Regions from separate parts of the Homo sapiens genome. Here region 2 is linked to region 1. Evidence: fine-mapped expression QTL. Tissue or cell type: whole blood. Region 1 holds a variant in brackets; the other region holds the start of a gene. All regions are shown on one strand. Distances are between the middles of the regions.

Region 1 (2,756 bases):
GAGCCTAACTGTGGCTGAAGATATAAATGTTCACACTGCAAGCAAACTCTGAGCACCATCCACCATCCCAAAGAGCTCTCCACATCGCCTCTCCTCAAAACCAAGCAGCTGCCAGGTCCCTGTGTGGAGATCCTAGGAGAGGAGCTTGGAGCCTCTGTATAGCTCAACCTGAAAACTAAAATGCGGGATTAAAACTACAAACTGACTTGATTCTTTTGCCGTGCCACATGTGGGGCCACTTATCAAGCCTAGTTTCTAAAGAGAACTAGCCCAGTGCGTGCCCCACACACACACTGAGGAGTTCAGTTCTCAAGCACCGGAACATCAGCCATTTTAGGAGGCCTTATTTTTCTTCCCAATAAAGCATACTCACATCATTTCCTTGCTCTAAGTTGGGGGTGGGTATCTAGGGGTGAAGGTTGGGAGGTGAAAATATTATTTGACAGAATAACTATTTTTGCAAGCTGCTGCACTGGCGGGACAGAGGCCTGGGATCTGGCACAGAGGAGTACCCGCCTCACGATCTGACACCCGCCTCCGAGCAGCCCGCCACCTGCAGCCCGGGGCCGGGCCCAGGGGAGGGGGCGCCAGCAGCCCCTGGCCCTCAGCCATGCTACCTCTCTTCAGGGCACTGGATCAGACACAGCAGATAACTGGCCAAAAAAAAAAAAAAAGGAAAAGAAAAAAACAAGGAAAGAAGAGGCGGGGAGAAACCTAAAATTTGGACTCAAAGGGTCTTTTCAAACACTTTAATCCTTTTGTGCTGATGGTTCCTGGGGCGCCCGGGGCTGGCACAGGCCCCTATACCGGGAAAATCCGACTCCCTAAGCCAGTGCATTAAAGAGAAGGCTGCTAATCAGCTAAATAGAAAGTGGAATCTGTTCACATGAAGTCTCTCTTTCCTTCCATCACCAGAGGGACACCACCGTGTTCTGAAATACACTCTTGACATCGTTTGGCAGGAAACCCTATTTTGCTGAACATGATTCATCCCTTAGGTTACTGTTTTTAATATTAGAAAGTGAGCTTTCAAGTGCCAAACAAATTTTGCAGCAGGGGACAAAAGATATTCCAAGTGGTCTCCCTGGACCTTCTACCAACTGCGGCCACCAAATGGCTTAAAAGAAAACCTTCCCGTGGTGCTTCAGAAATGAAGCAGAGACATAGCTACATCCAACTATTACCTAATACAGGACTTTGTTCTCTGAGTCTAGAGTGTTTATGGGATCGGGGCTGAACTCAGGTGGGCAGAGCTGTTGAGTGAGAACCGGGCAGTGTGAGCAGCGCAGTGGGGGCCGGGCCTTGGCAGAAGCCATGGGGCTGCAAGGCAATGCCCTTCCAACTCACGTACCTCCCGTCCATGTTGCCACTGACCATGAGGTTGGGAGGGCTGTCGCTGAGGTTGACAC[ACG/G]TGAAGTCACGGAGAACGTTACCCAGCTTCAAGAGGCGGCGTCCTGCTTCCAGGCTATACACCAGGATCTGAGAGAGGAAGAGAAATGTGTGGGCCCACAATTCCACACACCAGGCCGACATCAAATACTTTCATTTCACCATCGTGGAGGGCATGATCCTTATCACTGAGCTCCCGTGAAGATGTTCTGCCACTTAATTTCCTGATCTTTTTCAGGTTACTGATAGTATAGGGACATGGCTATTAAGAGTGCCAAAAAGAAATGCAAAGGAAGAGAGAAGGAAATCCAGCGAATTCCTCAAGCCAAGGTGCACACTCAGGCCACAAGGAAAACGCAGGGAAATCAGGTATTCTAATTTCTTAACAAAGAGAAAGCCGTCTGGAAACCACGGGGCCACTGACTGCTTCTGATTTGGAATGAATGGGAAAGCTCGCAAAGCATCAGGAAGCTTGCAGATGAGCCAGCATGAGTTCTCATCTGAATTTACGTCACAGGCGGGAAAAGAAAGAATAGTACAAGGACCAGGAAGATGAAGCTTGCATAGCCACTGGATGCTTCCTTCGGACTGAACTATAAACCAAAACACAAACTCACTCCCAAACACTTTTCTCTTCACTCTCTGCTTGCTAATGTTAGGATGCTGTGTTCCATAGGGTATGAAAGTAAATAAGAAGGTACCCCTGATTTCCAGACAATGCACTGTTATATTAGAACACCTCTGTGTCTTCTCTCCAGCAGGGGGAAATTTACGTTTTTTGCTTAAAAAGTATTAATTCAATTCAACTTAATTCAAAGAACATTAAATGCTTCCTATGTGTCAGTCACTGTCGTAGGTGCTGAGGACAGAGTCCTTGCCTCAAATTCACATTCAGAAGGCTCCTCATTAACACACACACAAACACACCAAGTTCTGAGCATACTTTCTATCCTGGAGATCATGTGGTTGACATTTTTAAATTAATGAACTCAGAAGTTTTTGGTTTTTTTGAGGGGGTGGGGGAACAGGGTCTTGCTCTGTCACCCAGGCTGGAGTGCAGTGGCAACATTATAGCTCACTGTAGCCTCAAACTCCTGGGCTCAGCCAATTCTCCCACTCAGCCTCCCGAGTAGCTGGGGCCATGTGTGTGTAACACCACGGCCTGCTGATGATATCTTTCTTTCTTTTTTAAAAAATTTTTTAAGTAGAGAAGCGGTCTCACTATGTTGCCCAGCCGGGTCTCAAACTTTTGAGCTCAAGTGATCCCCCTGCCTTGGCCTCCCAAAGTGCTGGGATTACAGGCCTGAGCCACTGCACCCAGCCAAAGGTTTTTGTTTTTGTTTTTGAGACTGAGTCTCACTCTATCG
Region 2 (2,500 bases), 100 kb after region 1:
GGACTTCCTTTGGGCCTAATTTAAATCAAACCATTAGAACCTGGAGCCTTGTCCTCTTAACCTGGGAGCCACGGATGCATTTCAGGTGTTCTTGATTTTCCCAACTTTCTGAAGGGGATTATTTTTAACGGACACAGGGTCCCCAGCTTCCTCCAGATTCTCCAAGGTATCCACGCCCCACAAAAAGATAAGAAACTCTATCCTAATGAAAGTGCCCAGGAGATTCTTCCTCCTCTTCTTCCTTTTTTTCTGAGATAATTTTTTTGAATACGTGCACGGTTACAAAAATTAAATAGTGCAAACAGTATACAAAGGTAAAATTACTTCCTATCCATCATCTGGGTCCTCCTTTTCAAAGGCAACCTTTGTTCAAAGTTTAGGTAGCCTTCAAGAGCAGGATTTCTCAACCCCACACTTACTGATATTTTGTCCTGGATAATTTTTTTGTGCGTGGTGTCCTGTACACTGTAGGATGTTCAGGAGCATCTCTGGCCTCTACCCACTAGATGCCCAGTAACATGCACACATACACACCCCGATGAGGCACCCAAAAATGTCTGCAGACACTGCCACATCTGGGGGAACAAAATCGCCCTGGTTGGGAAGTGCTGCTTCCAGAAAGACCCCTATGCAAGCACAAACATTGGTGTTTGTGCGTCTACTCATTTTCTCGGGCAACTAGTGGCACACAGTTACTCTCCAAATCACTGCAGGGGTTTGTCCTGGGGGCGGGGGCCGGCGCAGGCATGGGCGGGGGGGAGGCGACGGCCACTCACCAGGTCGCGGATGAGCTGGTCCACCAGCTGCTCCCCGCCCCCGGCGCCCTCGCGGGCCAGAGGAGAACGTGAGCGGCTCGCTACGTCCTGCCCCTCGGCCCGAGTCGCCCGCGCCGCCGGGGGCCTCCCCGCGCCCTCCAGGAGACGCTGGGCCAGCGCCGGGTCCCCCGAGGCCTGTTCGCCGCGCCCGGAGCCCACCTCCGGCCGCCGAGCCCGCCTCTCGGCAGCCTCGGGCCGTCGCCGCTTCTTCGGCGCCTGGGCCTGCGCCAGCTCCTCCTGCCAGCGCCGACGGAACTCATCCAGGCTGTAGTCGTCCATATTCGCCGCTCCCGGCGCTCCACGTTCTCCTCGGTTCCACCGGGTGCCACGAGACAGTCCCGCCCAGGGAAGTGTCCGCCGCGGCCGGAAGCCGCTGCCGCCGCCGCTCTAGGGTTCCGGGTGGGCGTCCACGCCCCCGCCACGCCCCCGGCGCTGCCCCTGTACGCACGTGGTGGTCCGGCTTGTGGCTTGTGGCGCCCAAAGCAGAGGTTTACGCAGCTGCCCCTCAGCCCGTCAGCTCTGCTGCCTATCACTTTTGCTAAGCTCTGACTTTGCGCCAAGCATTGTTCCTTCATTCAACAAACATTCATTCAGCAACTACTATATGCCAGGCACCAAGAATTCAGCATTTAAATCTGTAAAACAAAACAAAAACTCTGACGTCTTGGAGCATGCGTTTAAGTAGGGAGACTTTAAACAAAGAAATATGAACATTTAAATCAGTGATAGGTATTAGGAAGAAAACAAAATAAGGTAAGGTAAGGGGAGTAAGGATTGATAGTGAAAGTCTGTTTAAGATGTTATTTAAATTAAAATCTAAAAGAGAATCAACAGGTGGATAAAGAAACTGATATATACATATGGTGGAATACTACTCAGCCATAAAAAAGGAATGAATTCATGGCATTCGTAGCAACCTGGATGGGATTGGAGACTATTATTCTAAGTGAAGTAACTCAGGAATGGAAAACCAAACATCGTATGTTCTCACATATAAGTGGGAGCTAAGCTACGAGGATGCAAAAGCATAAGAATGACTTATGGGACTTTGGAACAGGGGAGGGGGACGAGGGGAGGGTGGGAAGGTGGGGAGGGATAAAAGACTATAACTTGGGTTCAGTGTATACTGCTCGGGTGATGCGTGCACCAAAATCTCACAAATCACCACTAAAGAACTTACTCATGTAACCAAATACCACCTGTTCCCAATAACCTGTGGAAATAAAAATTTTTTTTTAAAAATCTGAAAGAGAAACCAGCCAAGGGAAGGTCAGATCTTAGGAGAGAGATTTCCAGAAGGAAATCCAAGGGCTTTAAGATGGGAAAGAAAATGACATACGATGGCGTTCCACTTAAAAATGTTTTCTTTGCACCTGATATTCCCTCAGCAGGGAACTTTTCCCCCCACCTTGACTTGGTTAACTCCTACACATCTTTCATATCTCAACTCACATTTCACTTAATCTTCCAACCTCCACTCAAGAAACATCAGGTATCCCTGTTACTCATTCTCACAGCATCCTGTACTTCTCATCATAATACATAACACAATTTGTAATTTTATTTTTATGTATATATATATATCCCTTCCCTTCTAGATTGGCAACTCTTAGCTTTGAGACTGGTGATTAATACATGCTCAATAAATGGTTTTTTGTTTGTTTGTTTGTTTGGTTTGTTTTGTT

Evidence for each region. PIP is the estimated chance that this variant, and not a neighbour inherited with it, causes the effect.
Region 2: FBXW8 starts here. The variant in region 1 is fine-mapped to the expression of FBXW8 in whole blood (TOPMed, PIP above 0.99).

The regions. Positions count from the first base shown.
Region 1 is chr12:117,009,046-117,011,801 of GRCh38, reverse strand. It overlaps FBXW8 (F-box and WD repeat domain containing 8), which reads right to left. Exons shown (of 11, transcript NM_153348.3): 8 at 1,352-1,479. Among named protein-coding and RNA genes, the nearest start is that of TESC, 89 kb to the left of the region's middle. RefSeq lists an enhancer at 1,334-2,085. The variant ACG/G (reference allele first, on the strand shown) is at 1,410.
Region 2 is chr12:116,909,632-116,912,131 of GRCh38, reverse strand. It overlaps FBXW8 (F-box and WD repeat domain containing 8), which reads right to left and starts at 1,182. Exons shown (of 11, transcript NM_153348.3): 1 at 777-1,182. The coding sequence starts at 1,094. RefSeq lists silencers at 715-974, 1,135-1,354.